Homo sapiens: one gene and its partners. The protein of the gene in region 5 purifies or fractionates together with the protein of the main gene of each other region. This does not show direct contact. Each region holds a gene or a part of one and is shown on either strand. Other genes may lie near its edges.

What was found.
Region 1: the proteins of NR1I3 (region 5) and TRIM24 purify together in Homo sapiens (affinity purification with western blotting; one study listed by BioGRID). This does not show direct contact.
Region 2: the proteins of NR1I3 (region 5) and PML purify together in Homo sapiens (affinity purification with western blotting; one study listed by BioGRID). This does not show direct contact.
Region 3: the proteins of NR1I3 (region 5) and MED13 purify together in Homo sapiens (affinity purification with mass spectrometry; 3 studies listed by BioGRID and IntAct, with this or other methods). This does not show direct contact.
Region 4: the proteins of NR1I3 (region 5) and MED1 purify together in Homo sapiens (affinity purification with mass spectrometry; 3 studies listed by BioGRID and IntAct, with this or other methods). This does not show direct contact.

Annotation. Positions count from the first base shown.
Region 1 is NC_000007.14:138,577,524-138,583,574, forward strand, and holds part of TRIM24 (transcription intermediary factor 1-alpha), read left to right. Parts: coding exon 1-65; intron 66-1,680; coding exon 1,681-2,009; intron 2,010-3,038; coding exon 3,039-3,171; intron 3,172-4,173; coding exon 4,174-4,248; intron 4,249-6,051. UniProt on the Homo sapiens protein: Transcriptional coactivator that interacts with numerous nuclear receptors and coactivators and modulates the transcription of target genes.
Region 2 is NC_000015.10:73,999,822-74,005,872, forward strand, and holds part of PML (protein PML), read left to right. Parts: intron 1-6,051.
Region 3 is NC_000017.11:61,980,836-61,986,886, forward strand, and holds part of MED13 (mediator of RNA polymerase II transcription subunit 13), read right to left. Parts: intron 4,256-6,051; coding exon 4,165-4,255; intron 4,031-4,164; coding exon 3,816-4,030; intron 3,533-3,815; coding exon 3,336-3,532; intron 2,280-3,335; coding exon 1,363-2,279; intron 1-1,362. UniProt on the Homo sapiens protein: Component of the Mediator complex, a coactivator involved in the regulated transcription of nearly all RNA polymerase II-dependent genes.
Region 4 is NC_000017.11:39,404,540-39,410,590, reverse strand, and holds part of MED1 (mediator of RNA polymerase II transcription subunit 1), read left to right. Parts: coding exon 1-3,116; 3' UTR 3,117-5,381; coding exon of another isoform or gene 5,382-5,592; 3' UTR 5,593-6,051. UniProt on the Homo sapiens protein: Component of the Mediator complex, a coactivator involved in the regulated transcription of nearly all RNA polymerase II-dependent genes.
Region 5 is NC_000001.11:161,232,187-161,237,754, reverse strand, and holds part of NR1I3 (nuclear receptor subfamily 1 group I member 3), read left to right. Parts: intron 1-1,156; 5' UTR 1,157-1,189; coding exon 1,190-1,296; intron 1,297-1,777; coding exon 1,778-1,908; intron 1,909-4,416; coding exon 4,417-4,586; intron 4,587-4,808; coding exon 4,809-4,948; intron 4,949-5,568. UniProt on the Homo sapiens protein: Binds and transactivates the retinoic acid response elements that control expression of the retinoic acid receptor beta 2 and alcohol dehydrogenase 3 genes.

The DNA of each region.
Region 1 (6,051 bases), on a different chromosome or scaffold from region 5:
AAAATTATGATTTCCCTGTTGTTATAGTGAAGCAAGAATCAGATGAAGAATCTAGGCCTCAAAATGTAATTATGAATGCTTGCAATGCTATTCCTATGCATGGTGGGTAGGGTGAGAGAATCTTTTAAATAGCTCTTAGGAGTTTTTTTTTAATGTTATATTTAAAAGGATTTAAAGACAATTTGAGGGAATCTCTCAGTAAATTAAACAAAAAGACAAAGATGGAAAAACAGGAAAGTTTTTAAAAATCAGAGGCTCAGATATGGAGGCTGGGCAGTTAAAAGGAGATATTCTTTCTTTAATCAGAGTTTTATACCCAGGCAAATTATCAATCAGATTGACTTGAAGATTAACTAAACATTTTCGTGCAAGTTCTCAAAATAATTCTTATGTACTCATTCTCAGGAAGATACTTGATAATATGAATCATCAAAAATATAGTAAAACAAGAAAGAAGACATAAGATTCCAAAAATGGAATCTGACACAGAAGAAAAAGGCAACCCCCAGTACAGCAGCAGCAGCAGCTTGTGCAGTAGTCTGTAGCAGGAAGACATAGGACTCCCAAGGGAGAAAAATGCTTCAACAGTATTGAGAATCTCCTGTTGGAGATTGTGAGAATAACATAGAAATAGGTACCTAGAAAGATAAGCAACTGAAAATATAAGGTAATTACAGAGTCTTAGTAAAAACAAAAAGTTGTACAAAAAATGTCTTAGTACATTTTGTGGGTCTGCAGTGAACAATATTTAAATAATAATAATAATGATGTAAACAAACACCTGAGTACGAATGTAACTAAAAACTGTGATGCAATCAGGATATAACCTGAATATGCACTTAACCAAAAATTGTGATTTTCAGAATACTTAACCAGTACAAGACAAATACTGATCAGTTAGAATAGATACTGGCAATAAACAGTTATACCAGTACCTACCAACTAAAACAATCAATGCTTAATCAAAACTAAGTTAAAGGGATGGGGTGAATGGTGGTGGTGGTGGTTTTGTGTGTGTGTGTGTGTGTGTGTGTGTGTGTGCGCGCACGCACGAATGGAAGCAGGACGGGGTTGGAGAATCAGAATGTAAAAACCTAATCTCCTGATCTTCACTAGTAAGGATTATAGATGTATTGCAATTTTTAACAATCATTTTATTTAGAAATATGGAGGTAAACAGCAGAAGAAAAAGCTAGGTTTGAAAATAGTTCTTCCAAGGAATAAGTGCTTTTAACTATATCTACATTTATTACTTTGAAATTTTTGAAAACATTTGAAGGAGATTGTTTTTGTTATTGATTTGAAATTTTCACCATCCTGGGCTTCAACAGAAAGTTTAGATTCATCTTATAATTTTTGTATCTTAGGTATAATTTGAATGAACAGCTCCAGTGAGGTATATATATATATATATAGGTCATGTGGTTGACTTCCACTCTACCCAACCCATTCTCTAATTTCTGTAGCCATCCCCAGACTTAGATTTTTTCTCTATTTATTTTGGTATTTTTTAGTAGAGGTTCATGTCTTCTAAGCCAGTTAGCAATAAACATATACCCTTCTCCTGAAGATTCCTTTGAAGCAGCCAGGTGCTCACCAGAGAGTGGTCTACAGTTCAGAATTGCATTAGTGATAAAATTTTTTTTAAAGCCAGTTAAATATATTTTTTTTCTACTACAGGCCAATTATCCAAGAAGCATACTCACCTCCCTGCTCTTAAATAGCAGTCAGAGCTCTACTTCTGAGGAGACTGTGCTAAGATCAGATGCCCCTGATAGTACAGGAGATCAACCTGGACTTCACCAGGACAATTCCTCAAATGGAAAGTCTGAATGGTTGGATCCTTCCCAGAAGTCACCTCTTCATGTTGGAGAGACAAGGAAAGAGGATGACCCCAATGAGGACTGGTGTGCAGTTTGTCAAAACGGAGGGGAACTCCTCTGCTGTGAAAAGTGCCCCAAAGTATTCCATCTTTCTTGTCATGTGCCCACATTGACAAATTTTCCAAGGTAAGATAGTACTTCCCTTCCCACATTCTTTTACTGTAAACTTTTGAAGATTATTTTAACAGAAAGCCTTTGAAAAAACTTAAATGAAATTCCACTTGGCACAAGTGTATACTCCAAAATCCCAATGAATAGTCTAGGTTTTCCCATACCCTTCCGCTTATTCTTTGTGCTTCTTTCAAAAAACTAATCATTCAGCCTGAGCAACACAGGGAGACCCTGTCTGTCTGTACAAAATAAAAAATTAGCCGGGTATGGTAGTGCATGCCTGTAGTCCCAGCTACTCAGGAGGCTGAGGTGGGAGGATTGGTTGAGCCTGAGAGGTCAAGGCTGCAGTAAGCTGTGCTTGCACCACTGCACCCCAGACTGGGCAACAGAGCAAGACCCTCTCCCTAGTCATTACAAAAAGAAAAAAAAATAACAGGCCCTTTAAATTATCACAAGGGATCATCATAAGGAACAATGTCCCTATGCATAACAGCTACCACAGTTTATTATGTCTTTTTGCCAGGCATCGAACTGTATCTTTTACAAGTATTTCAAGTAAATTCTCATACCCTATGGGGATGATGATCATCATCATGACCAAGATGGTTAAGAGCCATTGGGTTGATCTCTCAGTTCTTGGAAGGCCATACTTTTGAAAATTTAATTTTATAAACTTAAGAGTAACAAGAATAGTACAAAGAGCTTTTCTAGTTCCTGAATCCTTTGGAGGAAAAAAATTCAATTATGCCCTAGATATGTGAGCCCTAGATTAAATTTGTTTAGGTGTTTCTTTTTTTTCAATATATGTATCTCACACCTTCTTAACTAGATTTTGATGTTTGTTAGGCCCTTGCATTATATTTCTGCTGTTTCCTCTCAGCATGGTGCAGTATACCTAGTGGTATGTGGTAAATGCTCAGTGATTAAAATTCATGCCAAATGAACAATTCTGTATCATAGATGTCATGGAGGAGGTGGGAAAGGGAAATAGTGAAGAGAGGAAATGATGCATTAGGAATTCAAAAGTACATTGTCCCCTAACAGTGGAGAGTGGATTTGCACTTTCTGCCGAGACTTATCTAAACCAGAAGTTGAATATGATTGTGATGCTCCCAGTCACAACTCAGAAAAAAAGAAAACTGAAGGCCTTGTTAAGTTAACACCTATAGATAAAAGGGTAAGTCTTTGGTAAGATGCATTATTGTATTGTAGTGCAATATTGTACTGTGGTACCTTTTGTCAAAGAGGTGTATATCCATCCAGATTTTATACTGATCCTTTTTATTTAAGAGTATTTTTTTTTGTTTACAAAGGTACATGAATCTTAAAGACTGTAACTTTCTTTAAATTAAAAAAATCACAGAATTAATGCATGTATTTTATAGAAGCTTATTGTACCTGAACAAGATGGAATATGTACCCTAGACTTTTAATCTACCTTAAGTAAATTTCTATTTTGTTTTATTTCCTACTATAGATAAGATTTTTCCTTAGAACTGCCACCAAGGAGCTGGGTTTTTTCTTTACTCTTCCTGGAAATAATTCCTTTTTTTTCACTGAATGGGACTAGACTTATGCATCAAAGCCAACTGATATATTTAACTGTAAATAACATTTAAAGCTACCAAGTCAACACTTTGTTACCAAAAAAACTCCTTTGCTAAATTATTAAGTAGAACAGTCAATATGAAAGTTGTCATGCAAGAGGGGACGTGCCCATTCACTGCCAGTACTACTCAGTGGTTACTGGGATAAACCCATAAAGCAGGGAAGTATATGAATAGCAGAGCACATGGTTGGACCTTCGGCATGCAGAAAGGTGCCTTAGGTCTGGATGCATATTGAGAAGGTCCACCTCCAGTTCTCCTAAGAGACGTACGTTCTTCCTTTATAGACTATTACTAATTTATAATACACAGACTGGAGCAATAAGTGCAAATTTATTGTTAGAAAACTTCAAATGGTTTTCTAGTGATTGTCTTAGTTCATTCAATTACAGGGCCTGTTCCCAAATATTGGGAAGGAGAGCAAAACTCCGAGAATCAGTAATTTTTTTGTATTCATCTGGGTTTTAATTTTTAGTCTGACACTTTGGGACCTCTGAGATTGTTATTTAAAATAAGCTGTGAATTCATTGTTTTATAATATTTTATCTCAGTTTTTATTTATTTTTGCTTAGAAGTGTGAGCGCCTACTTTTATTTCTTTACTGCCATGAAATGAGCCTGGCTTTTCAAGACCCTGTTCCTCTAACTGTAAGTATTAATGTCATTTTCTGCATGTTTACACAGTGGAATGCTTTTCTGGAATTTTATGAGAATCTAGCTTATATTACCATTTTTCAGTACTTTTTAATATCTAAACCTTAAATCTTAATAATACATACTGAATGCTTTGATCCTATGTAGGTACATTTTAGTAAGTGGCCCAAAACTTCTGTTCATTTCTCAGGTATTCTTTCTTCTTTCTTTTCTCATCTATTTTACTTACCACTGGGATGTTTAGGGTGATTTCTGTTAATTTTCTGTATTTCAGGAGTTTTAGGCATGTTTCCGAAGCTGTTGGAAAAAAAACTTTGAAATAAAGACATCTCTCCCTGCTACATTTTCCGTACTTATTTTTCTTTATAGGTCCAGACTTCAAGTAAATAAGTAGACGTTACCAATACAAAAAAAGTTGAGGAAGTATGTGCGCAGGTGCTATTGACTTCAGAAAGGTTCATATTGAAAGTTTGATGTGACTGTGGCCGGGCGCGGTGGCTCACGCCTATAATCCCAGCACTTTGGGAGGCCGAGGCGGGCGGATCACGAGGTCAGGAGATAGAGACCATCCTGGCTAACACGGTGAAACCCCGTCTCTACTAAAAATACAAAAAATTAGCCAGGTGTGGTGGCAGGCGCCTGTAGTCCCAGCTACTCGGGAGGCTGAGGCAGGAGAGTGGCGTGAACCTGGGAGGCGGAGCTTGCAGTGAGCCGAGATCATGCCACTGCACTCCAGCCTGGGCAAAAGAGCAAGACTCCGTCTCAAAAAAAAAAAAAAAAAAGTTTGATGTGACTTTAACGCATAATTTTAGAGTGCTGGAAAGGGCCTGGTACCCCAAAAGAGTATTCTTCTAATGTCTGAACCCCGGAGGCGGAGGTTGCAGTGAGCCGAGATTGCGCCATTGCTCTCCAGCCTGGGCAACAAGAGCAAAACTCTGTCCCAAAAAAAAAATTTTTTTTCATTTGTTCTACAGTTTGATAAATCTCAAATTAATACAAAGTTGAGAAGAAAATCAGCTTAGTAAATACAGTCAGCTTCTCTCTTAAGAACAGGTTTTGAGAACTTGATATAGGAAATAAATACCTCCAGGGAGAAGGGTCTTTTGTACCCAAAAGAGGCAGGGTAAAGAAGTCGAGAGGCTTGTAACAACATTACCAACTTGAAAATGTAACCTTGAATTGTACTTTTTATTATCCTGGCTTACAGTTACGTTATTAATACCAACAATGACAAAGTAGCCCCCTTTTTCTTAATAAATATCATCTCATTTAGTCTGTACAAAATGCTGTGAGTTTGGCAGGATTATCCCTATTTGAAATATGAAGAAACTGAGGTTAAGTAGCTTACCCAGGACCATGACACTGAGCAGCAGAGCTGGGGATTAAACCCAGATTCAAAGTCCTTCTTCCTCTTGTATAATACATGCAGCAAAAACATGTCAGATTCTACTAGAAATGATATTCTTCCTAGTAATTGCTTTTTGTTTAATAATGAAGAAAAAAATCTAGATGATTAAGAGGAAATATGTGAAGACAAGTTTTTTCATTAAAAATAATTGGGGCTGGGTGCAGTGGCTCACGCCTGTAATCCCAACATTTTGGGAGGCTGAGGCAGGCAGATTGCTTGAACCCAGGAGTTTGAGACCAGCCTGGGCAACATGGCAAAACCCCATCTCTACAAAAAATACAAAAATTAGCCGGCTATGTTAGCGCATGCCTGTAACCCCAGCTACGCGAGAGGCTGAGGTGAGAGGATCACTTAAGCCCAGGAGGCAAAGTTTGCAGTGAGCCGAGATT
Region 2 (6,051 bases), on a different chromosome or scaffold from region 5:
AAATTTTTTTTAATTTTTTTTTTTTTTTTTTGAGATGGAGTCTCGCTGTGTCACCCAGGCTGGAGTGCAGTGGCGCGATCTCGGCTCACTGCAACCTCCACCTCCCGGGTTCACGCCATTTTCCTGCCTCAGCCTCCCAAGTAGCTGCGATTACAGGTGCACATCATCATGCCTGGCTAATTTTTTGGCATTTTTAGTAGAGACAGGGTTTCACTATAATGGTCAGGCTGGTCTCCTGACCTCAGGTGATCCACCTGCCTCGGCCTCCCAAAGTTCTGGGATTACAGGCATGAGCCACCATGCCCAGCCTTATACTAATTTCTTAATGAATTTGTAAGCTTTCATGTTTTGAACGTGATAATGCAGCCATCCCACGGGATCCATGGGAGTCTGTTTCAAATTCATAGATGCTCAAGTCTCTGATATAAAATGGCATAGTATTTGTATATAACCTCTACACATCCTCCTGTATACTTTATTTTTTATTTTATTTTTATTTTTTGAGACGGGGTCTTGCTCTGTCGCCCAGGCTGGAGTGCAGTGCTGCACTCGTGGCTCACTGCAGCCTCAATCTCTTGGGTTCAAACAATCCTCCCACCTCAGCCACCAGATTATACAGGACTGCAGGTGTGCACCACCACACTCAGCTAATTTTTAAATTTTTTGTAGAGACAGGGTTTCACGACATTGCCCAGACTGGTCTTGAGAACTCTTGGGCTCAGGCAGCAACCCTCCCTAGGCCTCTCAAAGTGCTGGGATTACAGGTGTGAGCCACTGTACCCATCCCCTCCTGTATACTTTAAGTCATCTCTAGATTACTTATAATGCCTAATACAATGTAAATGCTATGTAAAGAGTTGTTTTACTATATTTTTGAATTTGTATATTTTTTTATTGTGGTACTTTTTTAATTGATTTTTTTTCGCCTGAATATTTTTGATCCAAGATTTGTTGAATCCACGGGTGCGTAACCTGCAGATACTGAGGGCCAACTGTACATATAAATTGTTTAGCGTAGTGCCTGGCACATATTAAATACTCAGTGAATGTTAAAATTCTATTATAATTTCTCTGCTCTAGAACAATTTGAAGAATATAAGAAATTTAGGCTTATAAAAGTTTTTTGAAAAACCATCTTGGAACTGGTGCCTTTTTTATAGTAGATTTTTGGGAACTTTTCCCATTTTTGCCATGGCATTAATCTGTTTTGGCTCTTGTGTCAGATTTTTGGAAGATTTTCCAGTTCATCCTGAGTTATCTTTCATTATTTAAAAATCTCCTATATGCCTGTAACTATACCCCCTTTTTTTATTTCTGATGTTGTATATTTGTGGTTTAGCAGTCTTTTCAAAGTACTGTACTTTTAGTCTTTCCTTAGATTGCTTACTGATTTTAATGTTTTCCTTCTTTCTGTTTGATCATTTTATTTTTGTCATTTTCTTCCTTCTAACTTTTGTCATTATTCATTTTCTAGCTTCTTGAACTTATAATTCATTTATTTGCAATCTTTATTGTTTAATAATAATAACTTTTTTTTTTTTGAGAATCTCCCTCTGTCACCCAGGCTGGAGTGCAGTGGTAGATCTTGGCTCACTGCAACCTGTGCCTCCTGGGTTCAAGTGATTCTCCTGCCTCAGCCTCCCCAGTAGCTGAGACTACAGGTGCCCACCACCATGCCTGGCTAATTTTTTTTATTTTTAGTAGAGACGGGGTTTCCCCATGTTGACCAGGCTGGTCTCGAACTCCTGGCCTCAAGTGATCCACCCGCCTCAGTCTCCCAAAGTTCTGGGATTACAGGCGTGAGCTACAATGCCCTGCCTAATAATAACTCTTTTAAGGCATAAGTTCTCTGTATATGGTTTTGGCTGTATGCCATAACTTTGATAACTTCATTAGTGTTCTCATAGTCAATCATTTCTCAAATTTCATTTCAGTCTTTTCTTAAAAAGGTTCTCTTGCTTAAGGTCAAGAGTTCGAGATCAGCCTGGGCAACATAGCAAGACCTCATCTTTACAAAAAATAAAAAAAATTAGCCAGGCATGGTCGGTGGTACATGCTTGTAGTCCCAGTTATTTGGGAGGTTGAGGCAGGAGGGTTGCTTGAACCTAAGAATTTGAGCCTGCAGTGAGCTGTGATGGTGCCACTTCACTCCAACCAGAGCATCAGAACCGGACCCTGACTCGAAAAAAAAAAAAAAGAAATTTTTTTCTCTTGAAAAGTTTTAGAGAATAGTGTTTTCTAAAATTTTCAAGTGGTTTTGATGTTTGGTTTCTTGTTCTGTCACCCAGGCTGGAATGTGATGGTGCGATTTCATACTTGTTAATTTCTGCACTATGGCCAGTTTATACAGTTTGTATGAGTTCTACATCTAAGACTATATTGAGATTTTCTTAGCGGCCTAGGATATTCCTTGGACTCACATATTCCTAGCAATAATCCTTAGAGTTGAAAAGTTGTATTTGTTGTACACACATATATATACATACACAAATATATGTATATAATATATATGTGTATATATGCATATATCTATATGTATATATCCATATATATGTAAGTTCTAGTGCTTGTGTGTGTGTGTGTATCTCCACGCTATTGAAACTTTCTACCTTTCTTTCTTTTCTTTTTTTTTTTTTTTTTTTGATGGAGTCTTGCTCTGTCATCCAGGTTGGAGTGCAGTGGCATGATCTCGGCTCACTGCAACCTCCTCCTCCCGGGTTCAAGTGTTTCTCCTGCCTCAGCCTCCTGAGTAGCTGGGATTACAGGCGTGTGCCACCATGCCCGGCTAAGTTTTTTTTTTTTTTTTGTATTTTTAGTAGAGAAGGGGTTTCATTATGTTGGCCAGGATGGTCTTGATCTCCTGACCTTGTGATCCACCCGCCTCAGCCTCCCAAAGTGCTGGGATTACAGGCGTGAGCCAACATGTCTGGCCGAAACTTTCTACCTTTCCTTCCATTCTGTTTCACCAGTTCTCTAAATGATAATTACAGAGTGGTAACTTCCCCATCAAAACATATATATAGGCCAGATGTGGTGGCTTCCACCTGTAATCCCAACACTTTGGGAGGCCAAGGCCGGTGGATATTTTGAGCCCAGGAGTTTGAGGCCAGCCTGGGCAATATGGTGAAACCCCGTCTCTACAAAAAAATACAAAATTAGCTGGACATGGTGGCACATGCCTCTCGTCCCAGCTATTCGGGAGGTGGAGGTATTCCTCAGAGAGGATCACCTGAGCCTGTCCGTTCAAGGATGCAGTGAGCCATGATCACGCCACTGCACTCCAGCCTGGGTGACACAATGAGACTCTGTCTTAAAAAAAGAAAAAAAGTGGGCCAGGCGCAGTGGCTCACGCTTGTAATCCCAGCACTTTGGGAGGCTGAGGCAGGCGGATCATGAGGTCAGGAGTTCAATACCAGCCTCACCAACATGGTGAAACCTCGTCTCTATTAAAAATACAAAAATTAGCCGGGCGTGGTGGCGGGCGCCTGTAATCCCAGCTACTCGGGAGGCTGAGGTAGGAGAATTGCTTGAAACTGGAAGGCGGAGGTTGCAGTGAGCTGAGATTGTGCCACTGCACTCCAGCCTGGGCAACAAGAGTGAAACTCCATCTCAGAAAAAAAAAGTGTATACACACACCAACACACACATACATGCACACTCTAGAACCTATCTCATCTATCACCACAAAGAGTAGAATATAACTATTCTTCCAGAGAAAATAAAACATTTAGCACACTTTTATAGTTTTTCTTCTTCCCTCTTCCTTCTCACTTTCAGATTTAGTTGAAATAATGTGAACTTTTAGTTCCAGATTACTACCAAATTGTTAATTTTTTTTTCTTTTGTAAACATCCTTTCTGAACAGGTATTAAGCTTCATGGTCATATTACAACGCACTTGTTAGCCATACCTTATACTTTAATTGGTTTCATTGCTCATGATAAGTTTTCCTATAGCTTTTCTTCTCCTTTCTTGAATTATTTAAGGTGATTAATTTTCCATTTGGCAGGAATACTCCATCAAGTAATTAAAAAAATTATTCCAGAGTTTACTTTCTGAGACCTTAAGTGTCTTTACTTGTATGTCCTTCTTTTGCTGTCACATGTGAGGGAAAGTTGAGCTAGGTGTAAAATTCTGAGGTCATAATCACAGTGCTTTCACCTCAGAATATATAAACCTTGCTTCATAAATTTCTAGTCTCTGGTGTTGTAGATGAGAAGTCCACTAATGGTCTATTTTTTCTCTGTGAGTAATCTGTTTTTGTTTGTTAAGGATCTTTATTTATTTTTATTTATTTTACTTTTTAGAGATGGGGTCTCACTCTGTCACCCAGGTTGGAATGCAGTGGTGCAATCAGAGTTCACTGCAGCCTCAAACTCCTGGGCTCAAGCAATCCTCCCACCTTGACCTCCCAAGTAGCCAGGACTACAGGCACCTGCCACCGTGCCTGGCTAATAAATATAGTTGGATGGTTTTCATTTGTTTATTTGTTTGTTTAGAGATAAGTTCTTGCTCTGTTGCCCAGGCTGGTGTGCAGTGGTGTGATCATAGCTCACTGTAACCTCGAACTCCTAGACTCAAGAGGTCTGCTAGCCTTAGTCTCTGAGTAGCTAGGACTATAGGTGCCTGCCACCATGCCTGGCTAATTTTTAAAATTTTATGTAGAGATAGGGTCTCACTATATTGCCCAGGCTGGTCTAAACTCCTGGCTTCAAGTGATCCTCCTGCCTTAGCCGCCCAAAGCACTGGGATTACAGGCTTGAGCCCATGCCCAGCCTGCTAAAGATCTTTATATAATTTTTTCTTTTTTCAATAATCTTCTATCGCCATTGTTGATCTGAAAAACTCAAGTCTTTCTTCAGCTCTTCATCTCAGGGAAATTGTATTCTGCTTTTTAATTTTTTTTTTTTTTTTGAGATAGAGTATTGCTCTTGGAATATAGTGGCATGATCTTGGCTCATTGCAACCTTTGCCTCCCAGGCTCAAGCAGTTCTCATGCCTCAGCCTCCCAAGTAGCTGGAACTACAGGAATGCGCCACTACACCTGGCTAATTTTTGCATTTTCTTTTTAGTAGACACAAGGTTTTGCCATATTGGCCAGGCTGGTCTTGAATTCCTGGCCTCAAGTGATCTGCCCGCCTTGGCCTCCCAAAGTGCTGGGATTATAGGCGTGAGCCACTGTGCCTGGCCATACTTTTTAATATACTGATAGCCCTTCATTTGTTTATTTTATTTTTTATTTTTATTTTTTGAGACAGGGTCTCACTCTCACCCAGGCTGGAGTGCAATGGCACGATCTCGGCTCACTGCAACCTCCACCTCCTGGGTTCAAGTGATTTTCCTGCCTCAGCCTCCCGAGTAGCTGGGACTACAGGTGCGCACCACCATGCCCAGCTAATTTTTGTATTATTAGTAGAGACGGCGTTTCACCATATTGGCCAGGCTGGTCTCGAACTCCTGACCTCGTGATCCACCCGCCTCAGCCTCCCAAAGTGCTGGGATTACAGGTGTGAGCCACTGCACCCGGCCCATTTGTTTATTTTTAAAATTTTTACTACTGTTGTTATATGGATATTGGAACTCCAAGAACATATTTTACATCTTTTAAATTTTTTCCCCATTAATTCTGTTGCTTTGCTTTTTTCCCCGAGATTCTCAGAGAGCTCCTCGAATTGTTTTTCTAACTCGCCAGCTCATCTTTTCGCCGCTGACTCCATTCTTCTATCTGCTACCCCTGTAGAGTTGTTGTGGGTTTTTTTCCCCCCAGCAATCTTTTTTTTTTTAATTGCCAAAAGAGCTTAATGCTCTCAGGATGCTTTTTCTTGGCAGCCTGCTCTTGTTTTCTCATTGTAGTGTGTTCTTAAGTCTCCCTGAAAAACACAGTTGGCATTTACAGAGGTGTATGTTTCCTACACGATCCCCTTTTCAATGGGTACTTGCTCAGTTTGGCTGCTGATTCTCTTCATAGGTCCTGCGGTCTGTGCTATCTGCTCCCATGTAAAAGTTGACATCTAGATTGTTCAGTGTTTGTAGCTAGCGTGGGCTGGCAGC
Region 3 (6,051 bases), on a different chromosome or scaffold from region 5:
AGGTTCAAGCAACTCCTCTGCCTTGGCCTCCTGAGCAGCTGGGACCACAGGCACGCCCCACCATGCTGGCTAATTTTTGTATTTTTCACCATATTGGGCAGGCTGGTCTCAAACTCCTGGCCTCATGATCTGCCCACCTCAGTCTCCCAAAGTGCTGGGATTAGACGCATGAGCCACCGCACCCAGCCATTTTTTTTTTCTTTTAGATGGGAGTTTCACTCCTGTTGCCCAGGCTGGAGTGCAGTAGTGCGATCTTGGCTCACTGCAACTTCCGCCTCCCAGGTTCAAGTAATTATCCTGCCTTAGCCTCCCGAGTAGCTGGGATTATAGGCGCCCACCACCAAGCCCAGCTAATTTTAAATTTTTAGTAAAGACGGGATTTCACTATGTTGGTCAGGCAGGTCTCGAACTCCTGACCTCAGGTGACCTGCCTACCTCAGCCTCCCAAAGTGCTGGGATTACAGGCATGAGCCACTGTGCCAGACTGAGAGATCTCTTAAAAAACAATCAGAATAAGGATCATGTTACTTTCCTTGTCAAAACTGTTCAATAGCTTCCCATCACATTTAGTATAAACCACAAAGGCCTTACATGGTCTATAAGACTCTAAATGATGCTGGTGAATGGCTACCTCCTAAATTTCATCTCCTTCCAGTCTCCCTATCACACAAAGCATTCCAGCAGCATCAGTCACCTTAATGTTCCTCAAACATGTAAAAGCAAAATACTCCCTCAGGGTCTTTGCACTGCCTGAAACACTCTTCCCTCATTTAACTACATAGCTCATATTCTATGTTATGTAGGAGTTTTCCCATATGCTATCTCCTCAGTAGTATCTTATCTGACCATACATCTAAAATAGTACATATGTGGTGTCTTGTTCTGTTTTACTCTGCTTTTCCTCCAAATTACTTCTTACTATCTATTATATGCTTTTTTGTTTATTTCCTATTTTCTCCACTAAATTATAGATTCAAAAAGGGCAAAGAATATGTGTGCTTTGTTCAACAGTGAATCTAGGCTAATACCTGGCACATACAAGGTGCCCAGTAAATACTTAATGAGTGAAAGAATGTTGAATAAAGCAGACCACTAGCAATGTTATGCTAATAAATATATGGAATGTGCCTTTCATATTCCTACATAAGTATATAATTACAGATTTATAATAACCATACTTTTATTGGTGAAATTAAACTAAACTGCTAAGAAATTCTCCCTTTAAAAACATCATCCATAAAGAGTTTTAAGTCCAACTTTAAATGTATTTGCCACATGGGAAACTGCCTTTATTACTTTTTCCTAAGAATGTAACTAAAGGGAAATAAGCAAACAAAAAAGTATTTTATTGGCATACTTTACCGTTTCTTTTGGACCAGGGGTGTAAGCATGAACTTTTCACAAGTGCTTCATCAACTTTTCCTCCTGACATGTTATCCATGAACTGACGCCCATGTTCTAATGCAAGGTAGCAGTCATTGCAACAGTCACGCTCTTCAACACGTACCCAATTGCTAATTACACCACTTTTAGGAAAAGGATCTTGGTCTGCTGCTCCAAAGGGTGAAAATAAATTAGTGCACTGATCTTGTAGCAATAATATCAAATCATCAGATAATTTTTCAGATTCCTTTAGTCCTCCATTAACATGTTCAGCAGAGGTAGCCCTGAGAGCTTCAAAACGTTTTTCTGCTTCTTTGCCACAGTCTGTATTGCGTCCTATGATATCTAGTTCATCTTCAAGAAATAATCCTGAATTGTTTCCAAATTTTCTGTTCATGACAGCACTGAAGCCACAGGTACACCTATATTGTGCTTCCTGCGTTGGATCTGGAATGTAAACTCCAACATCGGCACCCTTGATGTTCATGTTGCAAACACAGATGCAACAACTATCAAAGTTACAGTCTTTAAACAAATTCATAACTGATTCTGAAAGGATGAGGTTTACATAAAGACTGTGTGCTTCAGGGATGGAAGGGACAGTTGCAGGTTCAACAGAATTAAGGGGTCTGCATGTAGATGGGGTAGAAGCTGGTGAATACAAGTCTGAATTTTCATATTTGACTGAACCTTGAGCACTAGCAGGTCCACCAGCTCCACGAGGAGTCCGAGGAGTCCTTGGAGTCCTTGGAGTTGGAAACCGAGGGGTGGATGGAGAAGGAAGAATTCCTGCTCCGCTGTTACTAGGAGGTGCACTGCTAGGAGGCATCCCAAAAGAAGTATGAGTTTGAGGTGTATAAGCAGTGCCATATTCTTGATCCATATTACTTCCATCACTATCATCACCAGGGTAAAAGAAGATCAAATATATATATAAAGGAACATATTAGTAATGTGAAATACAACTAAAAACGTCCCAAATGTTTTTCAATTACATAGAAAATTATGAAAGGACAAGTATTGCAAGAATTACAAGCACAGTCAATTCTTATTTCTGGTTAACATATCTACTCTAAGTGATTGTTGTTGACTAAGGATCAATTAACAAGTTCAAAAATCATTAATAAGCACTCTATACACTAATGCATACCTAGACATCCATATTTACTATCTATAAATTTTGTTTACTAGAAATACTTATATTTCCTTGATTCTAAGATGCTACTGACTATAAAAAAAGAAAAATGATTTTAGAGATGCTCATGTGTAAAAAGGGAAAAATGGTAATTTTAAAATGCTACCACTTATAAGACATCTCAGATTCAGATTTCTTTTAGCCTTGAGTTGAAACTGACCAAGTCAGAGATGTTAAAATGTGAAAAGTGTGGAAAAGATGGCAAATGTAAAAATGGGAGCAATTTAAAATTGCAGCCCAAAAGAAAAGGTGCTTCGGAATACAAATCAAGCATAATAGTCTTAAGTTTCCTAATAGTTTATCCATACCCAATTAACCTTTTTTTTTTTTTTTTTGAGACAAAGTCTCACTCTTGCCCAGGCTGGAGTGCACTGGTGCGATCTCGGCTCCCTGCAATGCCTGACTCCCAGGTTCAAGCCATTCTTGTGCCTCAGCCTCCCAAGTAGCTGGGACTACAAGCATGCGCCACCACGCTTGGCTAATTTTTGTATTTTTAGTAGAGACGAGGTTTCGTATGTTGGCCAGGCTGATCTCAAACTCCTGACCTCAAGGGATACGCCTGCCTTGGCCTCCCAAAGTATGGGAATTACAGGCGTGATTCACTGCTCCCAGCCAATCACTATAATTGATTAACCAGAAATAATTTTTAGAATTTTCAAAAACCAATTTTATTTTTCCAGCATACCAGGTAAATCTATGAAAAAAAAATTAAAGCTGTATAAGCAGTCACATACTATTGTAACAACATAAATCATACCCCTCTTTGATGAATGGCATTGAAGGCCCTGAAGAAAGCAATTCCAATTTTCCAACAGTCCAACTCTGACGGTAAATACACTCTTCTGGCAATTTGATAGGGGGCAGATATTGGCTTGGTAGAGTTTTTAGAGGTGCAAACATGGAACATCCCACTAGAATTTGACAATTTTCAGGCTTATAGACATAAGAAAAATCCTACAATATAAAGATGGTAGGTTTTCAGTATCTTATCTTCTAGGAGGAAAAAATAAATAAACAAACAGGCTCTGGACCTTTTTTCCTTTCTTTAAACAGAATAAAATCTAAATACAATTCTATTATTTTCTTAAATGCATTCTTAATAGTGACAACAATAATTCAGTCCTCAACTTAGCTACAAAACCGCAACCACTATAAAATAATTTTTGACTATAGCAACAAATTAATTCTATAAGAAAATATAGGAAGTGAATTATTTTTCTAGAAAAAACATACTTACTTTAATTTCAGAAGGTTTGGGGCTACAGAATCCCTCATCAACCTCAATTTTGAACTGCGCTCCTATACTAGAACTATTTCCTTCTAGAACAGTTCCTCCAGGTGTTGTATCCATACTACCATATTCTTTATTATTCATATTCATTGGGGAAAATCCCATAATATGTTGTTCCAATGATGGTGGTGTAGGATACATTTTATGAAGATCTGCAGTGCCTATATTTAATAAAAACATACATTTTAACATGACTAAAAATAGGCGAATCTGTGTTTAAACCAAAAGGAGTGGGGAGCTTTGTTGAGATTAAAAGTTCGCAAATTTATCTCGAGCACAGATGAGGGAAGCTTACTTATGCAAGATAACGGGTCCAGATTTCCTGTCTTTGATTCCTTGCAGCTGGCTTTATCATCTGATCCATTTGCTGATTTTTTAGATCCAGGCTATTTAAAAAAAGCACATATTTATCTAAAATTTTACATCCAATGTGATCTCAAAATAGTAATCATTCAGATATAACTTAACAGTAAAGCCCATTCATTAAAAGTAGTATTTTGAATCTGTGATACAGCCAAATACATACTAGTGTTGAAAGATATAAAATATTTCTTAATCACTGACTCCAGATTAATTTATTTGGTAAGCCTCCAAATTAAAAGGAAAAAGTTCCTCCAAAGAAAATGACCAATACTTTCAAAATACACAGAAGTAAGGTTAACCTTAACTTAAAACCCAGTAATAAGAGGCCGGACATGGTAGCTCACACCTGTAATCCCAGCACTTTGGGAGGCTGAGGCAGGCAGATCAATTTGAGGCCAGGAGTTTGAGACCAGCCTGGCCAACATGGTGAAACCTCATCTCTACTAAAAATACAAAAAATTAGCTGGGTGGGGCATGCCTGTAATTCCAGCTACTCGGGAGGCTGAGGCACAAGAATTGCTTGAGCCTGGGAGGCAGAGGTTGCAGTGAGCCAGGACTGCACCACTGCACTCCAGCATGGGCAATACAATGAGACTCTTGTCTTAAAATAAATAAAAATAAGAAAACCTGCAATAAGAAGGGGTTGTAATTAACATTAGAAATGCTTCTTGGTAAAAGATACTTGCAGAGAAAGCATTTGTCTCCTTAAGTTGAACACATTAAAGTTTCCTATATAATCAATCACTCACCTATCTAAATTCTTATTTATACTTTCACCTTGTTTTAATAGTCTCCCTATTCCTGCAAAAATACTGTTAACAGGTAAAACTAAGTACAAACTTCAGAAGATCTAATGACAAAGCAATAGAGTTCCTAACTTTTAGTAGATTGAACAAACAAGTTTTACTATCTCCAAGCTCTTACCAGTGTTTTCAGAGCTAACATTTGTTCCATGTCTTCTGTTAGACAGTCTGTGATAAATATTAATATGTAGACCACGTTCTGACTACAATCTTTTATTTCAGAGGAACCACAGCTGATACAGGAATGGTAGTAGAGAGAAAGTATGAATGTGCCAAAGCATTCAAGGATATAGTTGCCTAGTAAAGGGTGCCCTAAAATGTACTACATTATGGGATACACAGTAAAAGTTTATGTATCTGCAATATATATATATGTATATGTACACACACACATATACACACATATAGAGATATATATGTTGAGAGAGGACTAAATGCATATTATATAGGAAAGGAAAGATCAAATGTACCATAGAAGTTTCCAAGCTACCTTTATGCAGATGAAAAGGAATTCCCTTTTATGATAATGCAGCACCCAATTCATTAATTTGACAGAGACTTGACATTCTAGGGAATCTCATTTTAAGCTTTAATTTCTTTTATCTTCACCTTTCTCTGCAAATGGGTGTTAAAGATTAAATATTATTTTTTTCCTCTTTTATTGTTATATCATGTATCTGTCTTATAATAGCTGTGATGCAAAACAAATTCAAAAGAGCTGGTATTCCTTAATAAATTGACAAAGCAAATAACTTTAATGTCAATTATGTATGTGTTCTCTGAATGAGTAAATTCCAGAGTCATTTCTCAAACTACAGAATCAAATAGGAAAATAATTCTGCTTCCTAAAACTACAAAACAGAACATACGGCAGAGCTCAAATTAAGGTTAATCATGTGTCCCCCAAATGTAAAAACAAAAGGAGAAACAAAACCCTCAAAGTTTATAGATGACACTATGGCAAGACTACTCAAACATGAGATTTAAAAAAGAAATCAATGAATGAGGTTTTACTA
Region 4 (6,051 bases), on a different chromosome or scaffold from region 5:
GCAGCCCAGGGTATGGCATGACCACAGGCAACAACCCAATGAGTGGTACCACTACACCAACCAACACCTTTCCGGGGGGTCCCATTACCACCTTGTTTAATATGAGCATGAGCATCAAAGATCGGCATGAGTCGGTGGGCCATGGGGAGGACTTCAGCAAGGTGTCTCAGAACCCAATTCTTACCAGTTTGTTGCAAATCACAGGGAACGGGGGGTCTACCATTGGCTCGAGTCCGACCCCTCCTCATCACACGCCGCCACCTGTCTCTTCGATGGCCGGCAACACCAAGAACCACCCGATGCTCATGAACCTTCTTAAAGATAATCCTGCCCAGGATTTCTCAACCCTTTATGGAAGCAGCCCTTTAGAAAGGCAGAACTCCTCTTCCGGCTCACCCCGCATGGAAATATGCTCGGGGAGCAACAAGACCAAGAAAAAGAAGTCATCAAGATTACCACCTGAGAAACCAAAGCACCAGACTGAAGATGACTTTCAGAGGGAGCTATTTTCAATGGATGTTGACTCACAGAACCCTATCTTTGATGTCAACATGACAGCTGACACGCTGGATACGCCACACATCACTCCAGCTCCAAGCCAGTGTAGCACTCCCCCAACAACTTACCCACAACCAGTACCTCACCCCCAACCCAGTATTCAAAGGATGGTCCGACTATCCAGTTCAGACAGCATTGGCCCAGATGTAACTGACATCCTTTCAGACATTGCAGAAGAAGCTTCTAAACTTCCCAGCACTAGTGATGATTGCCCAGCCATTGGCACCCCTCTTCGAGATTCTTCAAGCTCTGGGCATTCTCAGAGTACCCTGTTTGACTCTGATGTCTTTCAAACTAACAATAATGAAAATCCATACACTGATCCAGCTGATCTTATTGCAGATGCTGCTGGAAGCCCCAGTAGTGACTCTCCTACCAATCATTTTTTTCATGATGGAGTAGATTTCAATCCTGATTTATTGAACAGCCAGAGCCAAAGTGGTTTTGGAGAAGAATATTTTGATGAAAGCAGCCAAAGTGGGGATAATGATGATTTCAAAGGATTTGCATCTCAGGCACTAAATACTTTGGGGGTGCCAATGCTTGGAGGTGATAATGGGGAGACCAAGTTTAAGGGCAATAACCAAGCCGACACAGTTGATTTCAGTATTATTTCAGTAGCCGGCAAAGCTTTAGCTCCTGCAGATCTTATGGAGCATCACAGTGGTAGTCAGGGTCCTTTACTGACCACTGGGGACTTAGGGAAAGAAAAGACTCAAAAGAGGGTAAAGGAAGGCAATGGCACCAGTAATAGTACTCTCTCGGGGCCCGGATTAGACAGCAAACCAGGGAAGCGCAGTCGGACCCCTTCTAATGATGGGAAAAGCAAAGATAAGCCTCCAAAGCGGAAGAAGGCAGACACTGAGGGAAAGTCTCCATCTCATAGTTCTTCTAACAGACCTTTTACCCCACCTACCAGTACAGGTGGATCTAAATCGCCAGGCAGTGCAGGAAGATCTCAGACTCCCCCAGGTGTTGCCACACCACCCATTCCCAAAATCACTATTCAGATTCCTAAGGGAACAGTGATGGTGGGCAAGCCTTCCTCTCACAGTCAGTATACCAGCAGTGGTTCTGTGTCTTCCTCAGGCAGCAAAAGCCACCATAGCCATTCTTCCTCCTCTTCCTCATCTGCTTCCACCTCAGGGAAGATGAAAAGCAGTAAATCAGAAGGTTCATCAAGTTCCAAGTTAAGTAGCAGTATGTATTCTAGCCAGGGGTCTTCTGGATCTAGCCAGTCCAAAAATTCATCCCAGTCTGGGGGGAAGCCAGGCTCCTCTCCCATAACCAAGCATGGACTGAGCAGTGGCTCTAGCAGCACCAAGATGAAACCTCAAGGAAAGCCATCATCACTTATGAATCCTTCTTTAAGTAAACCAAACATATCCCCTTCTCATTCAAGGCCACCTGGAGGCTCTGACAAGCTTGCCTCTCCAATGAAGCCTGTTCCTGGAACTCCTCCATCCTCTAAAGCCAAGTCCCCTATCAGTTCAGGTTCTGGTGGTTCTCATATGTCTGGAACTAGTTCAAGCTCTGGCATGAAGTCATCTTCAGGGTTAGGATCCTCAGGCTCGTTGTCCCAGAAAACTCCCCCATCATCTAATTCCTGTACGGCATCTTCCTCCTCCTTTTCCTCAAGTGGCTCTTCCATGTCATCCTCTCAGAACCAGCATGGGAGTTCTAAAGGAAAATCTCCCAGCAGAAACAAGAAGCCGTCCTTGACAGCTGTCATAGATAAACTGAAGCATGGGGTTGTCACCAGTGGCCCTGGGGGTGAAGACCCACTGGACGGCCAGATGGGGGTGAGCACAAATTCTTCCAGCCATCCTATGTCCTCCAAACATAACATGTCAGGAGGAGAGTTTCAGGGCAAGCGTGAGAAAAGTGATAAAGACAAATCAAAGGTTTCCACCTCCGGGAGTTCAGTGGATTCTTCTAAGAAGACCTCAGAGTCAAAAAATGTGGGGAGCACAGGTGTGGCAAAAATTATCATCAGTAAGCATGATGGAGGCTCCCCTAGCATTAAAGCCAAAGTGACTTTGCAGAAACCTGGGGAAAGTAGTGGAGAAGGGCTTAGGCCTCAAATGGCTTCTTCTAAAAACTATGGCTCTCCACTCATCAGTGGTTCCACTCCAAAGCATGAGCGTGGCTCTCCCAGCCATAGTAAGTCACCAGCATATACCCCCCAGAATCTGGACAGTGAAAGTGAGTCAGGCTCCTCCATAGCAGAGAAATCTTATCAGAATAGTCCCAGCTCAGACGATGGTATCCGACCACTTCCAGAATACAGCACAGAGAAACATAAGAAGCACAAAAAGGAAAAGAAGAAAGTAAAAGACAAAGATAGGGACCGAGACCGGGACAAAGACCGAGACAAGAAAAAATCTCATAGCATCAAGCCAGAGAGTTGGTCCAAATCACCCATCTCTTCAGACCAGTCCTTGTCTATGACAAGTAACACAATCTTATCTGCAGACAGACCCTCAAGGCTCAGCCCAGACTTTATGATTGGGGAGGAAGATGATGATCTTATGGATGTGGCCCTGATTGGGAATTAGGAACCTTATTTCCTAAAAGAAACAGGGCCAGAGGAAAAAAAACTATTGATAAGTTTATAGGCAAACCACCATAAGGGGTGAGTCAGACAGGTCTGATTTGGTTAAGAATCCTAAATGGCATGGCTTTGACATCAAGCTGGGTGAATTAGAAAGGCATATCCAGACCCTATTAAAGAAACCACAGGGTTTGATTCTGGTTACCAGGAAGTCTTCTTTGTTCCTGTGCCAGAAAGAAAGTTAAAATACTTGCTTAAGAAAGGGAGGGGGGTGGGAGGGGTGTAGGGAGAGGGAAGGGAGGGAAACAGTTTTGTGGGAAATATTCATATATATTTTCTTCTCCCTTTTTCCATTTTTAGGCCATGTTTTAAACTCATTTTAGTGCATGTATATGAAGGGCTGGGCAGAAAATGAAAAAGCAATACATTCCTTGATGCATTTGCATGAAGGTTGTTCAACTTTGTTTGAGGTAGTTGTCCGTTTGAGTCATGGGCAAATGAAGGACTTTGGTCATTTTGGACACTTAAGTAATGTTTGGTGTCTGTTTCTTAGGAGTGACTGGGGGAGGGAAGATTATTTTAGCTATTTATTTGTAATATTTTAACCCTTTATCTGTTTGTTTTTATACAGTGTTTCGTTCTAAATCTATGAGGTTTAGGGTTCAAAATGATGGAAGGCCGAAGAGCAAGGCTTATATGGTGGTAGGGAGCTTATAGCTTGTGCTAATACTGTAGCATCAAGCCCAAGCAAATTAGTCAGAGCCCGCCTTTAGAGTTAAATATAATAGAAAAACCAAAATGATATTTTTATTTTAGGAGGGTTTAAATAGGGTTCAGAGATCATAGGAATATTAGGAGTTACCTCTCTGTGGAGGTATTGACTTGTAATCTCATTTTCCTTTCAAAAAAAAAAAAAAAAGCTAAGGTGGCTTGTTGGGATGTAAACATGTTTTCAGATGCAGTAAGGTTTAGTGTAGGACAGCCTTCCTGACCCAGTGGCATGAAAACCATTACAGGATTAATAGTTCTCCTACTTCCACAATGTGCCAAAAGTCTGCATCCCAGCATTTTGTTTGCAGGAGAACTGATGCCATTCCTAAGAGCTGGACTCACTGTTTCTCTTCATCACAAGGAGAAGGAGTCCAAACTTTAATCACTCCACTGTATGCTCCCTGAGATAAAACAGTAAAAAATCCGCAGCCATAGTTCACTTAAAACAATTTCAAGCTCACTTTTGAAGTAATGGGGGCCTGGAATGCTAGGTGAGCATGAAGATAAACCCTTGCTACTATGTAGCAACCCAATTGGACCTTTTTGGAGAAATAGGTCTGAGTCTGGATTCTGGGGGACATCAATAAGAGCCCTTCACATAAAAATATAGAAATCCAGGAGACTGTTTCGAGTGCAACAGAAGTTCTCAGTATTTGGAGGGTCCTCTCAAAAATTCTGCGGCCTTACTTTGATATTGACACCTGCACTGTGCCATTCCTGATTATTCCATTCAGGATCTGTATCAGCGGGATGGGGCATGGTCCCCAGCACAACTCTTCTGGGTTAAAAAAAAAAAGCCAGGTGATTCCTTTGTGTGTTATGTCGTAAGTGGAGTGACTTCATCATATATGGAAGAAGATTTCTATATTCAGCTTTTTCTGCAGGTTGGAGTCAGCATAGAGTTGGAAAATCAGCTTTGGCTTTCTTTCCTGTCTCATTTCCTCTAGTGTTCTCCTTTTTATTGTCATCAGCTCTCAACAACTCTGCCACTTTTGTGTCCCAAGGTAATAAGATGTAGGAAACAAAACATTGTAAAGTGGAGCAAGAAAAGTTATCAATTAACCACATCAGAGTCAAATGTCTTGGGTGACACTAAGGAGGATATGGGCAGGTGATACCAGAGTGCTTTATCTTGTGATGTTGATACAGTAGCAGCCTCTCAGACATTCAGCCAGGTTGGATTTCTCATGAGTTTGTCACCTAGTTTTGAATCCTATCCCGTTGGTTTCTGCAGGAAAAAAAAAAAAATTTATGTGGTTTTTAAAATTTGTTCTGAGTGGGGAGAATCTTAGGGGGAATGTACTGAATAGTATCATGGGCTCAGCTCCCCCATGCAGGGCCAACAAATACCAAAATGAGTAAACTGGGAAGCTTTTCTCTCTTTCTGTCTTCATCCCAGATCAAAGAATCCCGAGTTAGGATCTGGATGAAGGATAAGCCCCTGAATTGTCGATGGGCTCACCCCCACACTGACCCAGCATCTGAACTTGCTTAACAGGGAGCCGGGGCTAAACTGCTTCACCCTGCCTGAGAACCAGGGAGCACTGCATTTCTCCACAGGGTGGAGGAGAAGAGGCAGAATAAACCAAGCCTGGGACACCTCCCTCCTGTCTAGGTGTACTCATTCTTCTGTTTCAAAAGAAGGCAAGGACATGAAGTCAACTTCTACCTATCTTCTGCTGCTGGTGTCTTATGTATTCTCAGTTTGACCTGATTCCTCTTCTGTCTTTTGACTTAACATTAGGGGTTCTTGGTCATAACCTGCTCTGATGTACATAAAGATTTCAGGTTCAATATCAATGTGTCTTAAAACAGAAGTATTTTAGCGGGTGGGGGGTGGGGTGGTGGGGACAAACAACGCAGGATATAATTGCCAAAACCAGGCTTGAGGTTGGTGACTCTTGAAAGATTTTCTTTCTTCAGGCCTAGATCAGAAAATTAAGTGCAGCAATATCATGAATTCTCAGAAGCCCTTTCAGGGAGCCAGTGAGTCATACAGTATCCACAGTTGAGTCACTTAAAGATGTCAGTATACGAAACATTATTCACAATCCTTGGGCAATCTCATTTTTTTTTCCTTCTCCCCTCCTCCCCTGCCCCCCATACATTTCTATCCTTGAGTTAGTTTTGGAGGGGCAGGAAGTACTTAACATCTCAGAAGCTAGATT
Region 5 (5,568 bases):
TTTTTTGTTTTTTGTTTTGTTTTTTTGGGTTTTTTTTGAGATGGAGTCTCGCTCTGTCGCCCAAGCTGGAGTGCAGTGGCGCAATCTCGGCTCGCTGCAACCTCTGCCTCCCAGGTTGAAGCGATTCTCCTGCCTCAGCCTCCCAAATAGCTGGGACTACAGGCACATGCCACGATGCCCAGCTAATTTTTGTATTTTTAGTAGAGACGGGGTTTCACCATGATGGCCAGGATGGTCTCGATCTCATGACCTGGTGATCCGCCCACCTCGGCCTCCCAAAGTGCTGGAATTACAGGCATGAGACACTGCACCAGGCCTAAGTCAGGAATTTGAAACCAGCCTGGCCAATATGGTGAAACCCCATCTCTACTAAAAATAAAAAATTAGCTGGGCATGGTGGCGGGCACCTTAATCCCAGCTACTCAGGAGGCGGAGGCATGAGAATCACTTGAATCTGGGAGGCGGAGGTTGTAGCGAGCCAAGATTGCACCACTGCCCTCCAGCCTGGGTGACAGAGCAAGACTCAATTTCAGGGAAAAAAAAAAAAAGGAAAGAAAGGAATAAGAGAGGGAGGGAGGAAGGAAGGAAGGAAAAGAAAAAAATATCCTGGTGTGGTGGTGTGTACCTATAGTTCCAGCTACTCAGGAGGTTGAGGCAGGAGGATCCCTTGAGCCCAGGAGTGTGAGGTTACATTGAACTATGATGCACTCCAGCCTAGGCAACACTAGGCAACAGAGTAAGACTCTATCTCAAAAAACAGAACAAACAAATAAACAAAAAAAAATAAACAAAAAAACCAACCTGGGCAACATGGCAAAACCCCATCTCTACAAAAAAAATAAATAAATAAATAAACAAAAATTAGCTGGACATGGTGGTCTGGACCTGTAGTCCCTGCTACTCAGGAGGCTGAAGTGGAGGATTGCTTGAGCCCAGGAGGCAGAGGTTGCAATGAGCAGAGATCTAGCCTAGGTGACAGAGCAAGAACTTGTGTCAGAAAAAAAAGAAAAAGAAAAAGAAAAAGAAAACCACAAAAGATAACGCCAGGGATCAAGTCAAGGGCATGTTTGGTTTGGTTTGGAAAGAGACTCTCTAGAAGGGACAGAAAAGGGTCAAGGGTGGCCCAAAACTGACTGCTGACCCCTCCTACATTCAGGAGTCTGTGACAGCCACCCCAACACGTGACGTCATGGCCAGTAGGGAAGATGAGCTGAGGAACTGTGTGGTATGTGGGGACCAAGCCACAGGCTACCACTTTAATGCGCTGACTTGTGAGGGCTGCAAGGGTTTCTTCAGGTGAGAGTCTCCTCCCCAATGGAAATAGCCCTCCAAACCAAACTCCCTATTAGTCAGCCTTTACACCCTCGCTGGTGCCCAAGCCTGTCCAGCTACATTACTCCTTTATCTTAGAGTCTAACTACCCTGTGGCTGGCATCCTACATCTTGCCAAACACATCACTGTATAAACTGGTGGCATAACAGAGGGAAAGCTGAATGTTTGTCTGATGGACACAGCCCATTAGTCAAGAGCATTTATTATGTACCCACTGCCTGTGAAGCACCTAGCTAGTACTACATCAACTAGGCTTTCTGGAGTGATCCTGTGTTGCCATGGAAATGCTTGAGATGTGTTGGATACTATCCACCCCTGGGGACCTTTGGGCACAGCTCAGATTAGTCCATTTCACCAGATTCCCAGGTCTTTTAGACCATGTCATCTCAGCCCCTCACCTATCCATTGCATCCCAGACTCTAACAACATCTCTGTGTCTCACAGGAGAACAGTCAGCAAAAGCATTGGTCCCACCTGCCCCTTTGCTGGAAGCTGTGAAGTCAGCAAGACTCAGAGGCGCCACTGCCCAGCCTGCAGGTTGCAGAAGTGCTTAGATGCTGGCATGAGGAAAGACAGTGAGTTGGCCCCCTACATCTCAAGAATCCATTGACTGCGTCTGTCTTTGTCCTTGTTCCCAACAGTGCATTCTCTACATAGCAGGCACAGTACTCTTTTTGAAACTAGTTGGATTATGTCACTATTCACTCAAGACATCCAATGGCTCCCCATCTCAAAGTACGTGATCTCATGATCTAGCTCTCCCACAACACCTTTCAGACTTTATTTCATACTCTTCCCCCTTTACTCAACCAATTCTAGCCACACTGACTTCACTGTCATTCTTAGAAACACCAGGCCGGGCGCGGTGGCTCACGCCTGTAATCCCAGCACTTTGGGAGGCCGAGGCAGGCGGATCACGAGGTCAGGAGATCGAGACCATTCTGGCTAACACAGTGAAACCCCGTCTCTACTAAAAAAATACAAAAAAAATTAGCCGGCCGTAGTGGCGGGCGCCTGTAGTCCCAGCTACTCGGGAGGCTGAGGCAGGAGAATGGCGTGAACCCGGGAGGCGGAGCTTGCAGTGAGCCGAGATCGCGCCACTGCACTCCAGCCTGGGTGACAGAGCCAGATTCCGACTCAAAAAAAAAAAAAAAAAAAAAAAAAACACCAAGCGCACTCTTCCCCAAGGCTTTTCCACTTGCCATTTCCTCTACCTGAAATGCTTTTCTCCTAGATAGCCACATGGCTAGTCTTGTCTTTTCTTTTCTTTCTATTTTTTTTGATAGAGTCTCATACTCTGTTGCCCAGGCTGGAGTGCAGTGGCGCCATCTCGGCTCACTGCAACCTCCGCCTCCTGCGTTCAAGTGATTCTCCTGCCTCAGCCTCCTGCATAGCTGGGATTACAGGCATGTGCCACCACACCCAGCTAATTTTTTGTATTTTTAGTAGAGATGAGCTTTCACCATGTTGACCACGCTGGTCTCAAACTCCTGGCCTCAGGCGATCTGCCCACCTCCGCCTCCCAAAGTGCTCAGATTACAGGTGTGTTTTTTATTTTCTATCTGTTGAGTATAGTGCCTGTCACCTAGTAGGTGCTCAATAACTTAATTAATGCTTTCTCTGTGCCAGGTAACTGTGCTATGCTCCCAAAGGAGGATGTAACTGGGGCTCACGGAAGTTAATTTGCCCAAGTTAATTCAACTAAAAACTTGTGCAGGCCGAGCACGGTGGCTCACACCTCTAATCCCAGCACTTTGGAAGGCTGAGACAAGAGGATTGTTGAGGTCAGGAATTCAAGACCAGCCTGGTCAACAGAGTGAGATGTCCTCTCTAGGAAAAGAAGAAGGAAGAAGAAGTTGTACAGTCAGTATTCAAACTCAAGTTTACCTGACTCCCAAACTCTTGCTTTTTCCATATCACACGATTCTCACTATGGAAGAATGAAAGGAAACTGTAGAAGTCAAAGGATCTTGGTCTGAATTCAAGATCTTGGTTTGATCTTGGATCTTTTGCAGAAGTCAAAAGATTTTGGTTTGAATTCAATCTATATTACTTATTTTGTGACCTTGGTTCTGTCACCAGAATCTAAGCCTGTCCACATTTCTAAAAAATGTGATTGGGCTGGGTGCAGTGGCTCACGCCTGTAATCCCAGCACTTTGGGAGGCCGAGGTGAGTGGATCACTTGAGGTCAGGAGTTCGAGACCAGCCTGGCCAACATGGTGAAACCCCGTCTCTACTAAAAATACAAAAAAAAAAAAAAATTAGCAGGGCGTGATGGTGGGTGCCTGTAATCCCAGCTAGTCAGGAGGCTGAGGCAGGGAGAATTGCTTGAACCCAGGGGGCAGAGGTTGCAGTGAGCCGAGATTGCTCCATTGCACTCCAGCCTGGGCGACAGAGTGACAGACTCCATCTCAAAACAAAACAAAACAAACAAAAAAATATATATATACACATATATATACACATATATACACATATATACATGTATACACATATATATACATATATACACATATATATACACACACATATACACACACACACACACACACACACACACACACACACACACACACACACACATATATATATGATGAATACCAGCCCTGCCTATCCTGGGGTTGTTTCATTCAGTGGGATTTAACCTCAGAAGTTTTGAAATTTTGCTAAAACATCAGATAAAGGTTTATTTGAAAGGATTATTTGATTATTTTTGAAGGATTATTTGAAAACATCATATAAAGTGATGTTCTAGGTATGAAGACCCCTCCCTCTACACTGTTTCCCCAAAAGCCCTCGCACCTTTCCTCACATCTTTCATACTTTCCTCGCCACCCTTCCCTTCTCCCCCACAGTGCAGTTTTCTGCTGCAGTTCTTCACAGGTTGGTGGAAGTGTATAGGAGCCCCCTGCCTCCTGGAGCCTCTAGGACTTTAGCCAAGCCCAAGAAAGTCTCAGGAATTCCCCCCACTGCCCCCATCCTTCGTTGTGCAGGGCAGCTGAGGGGCCCCAGATCAGGGACCAGCAGAGAGAAATGCTCTGCTGGTCTCAACAGCTTTGTCATGATCTCTTGCCTGGCACAGTGATACTGTCGGCAGAAGCCCTGGCATTGCGGCGAGCAAAGCAGGCCCAGCGGCGGGCACAGCAAACACCTGTGCAACTGAGTAAGGAGCAAGAAGAGCTGATCCGGACACTCCTGGGGGCCCACACCCGCCACATGGGCACCATGTTTGAACAGTTTGTGCAGTTTAGGGTGAGCACCGACAGGATTTGGGTTGGAATACAACTAAAAGGGCACCCAAAAATGCTGGTCTGAAGGAGAGGGGTGTATGCCATGCACTGATACTGAGAACAGATCTCCAGAACCCCAGCCTGAGCAGGCTTCTCAGCAAGGAACTCTTCCAAGATAAGGCTGGCGAGGCCTAAAGGAGGGCCCTAGGGCCAGAGCCTCTAGCTAATGTTCTGATCATTGCAGCCTCCAGCTCATCTGTTCATCCATCACCAGCCCTTGCCCACCCTGGCCCCTGTGCTGCCTCTGGTCACACACTTCGCAGACATCAACACTTTCATGGTACTGCAAGTCATCAAGTTTACTAAGGACCTGCCCGTCTTCCGGTGAGTGACCTCCCCTCATCTTTCAGGAGGCAAACACTTCAGTAAATTGTATATCCACCCCGAAAAGTCACTGACTACAAATTATCACATGCGTCAGCCTTTCCAAGCATTAGGTCTTGAATTCCCAGCTTTGGTTTTAAATGTGCCAATCAGAACTGGGAGTTCTTCTCCATCTCTGAAGTACAGGCTTGCATCTAAAGTGCCCTTGAGGTGCCGCGCAGTGGCTCACACTAGTAATCCCAGCACTTTGGGAGGCGGAGGCTGGCAGATCGCTTGAGTCCAGAAGTTTGAGACCAGCCTCAGCAACATGACAAAACCCCAACTCTACAAAAAATACAAAAATTAGCTGGGCATGATGGTGGGTGCCTGTAGTCCCAGGTACTCAGGAAGCTGAAGTGGGAGGATCACTTGAGCCCAGGAGGTTGAGGCTGCAGTGAGCTCAGATAGCACCGCTGCATTCCAGCCTGGGTGACAGAGTGAGACTCTGTCTCAAAAAATGAAAGCTAAAAATAATAATAATAGGCCAGGCACGGTGGCTCATGCCTGTAATCCCAGCACTTTGAGAGGCCAAGGTGGGTGGATCACTTGAGCTCAGGAATTTGAGACCAGCCTGGCCAACA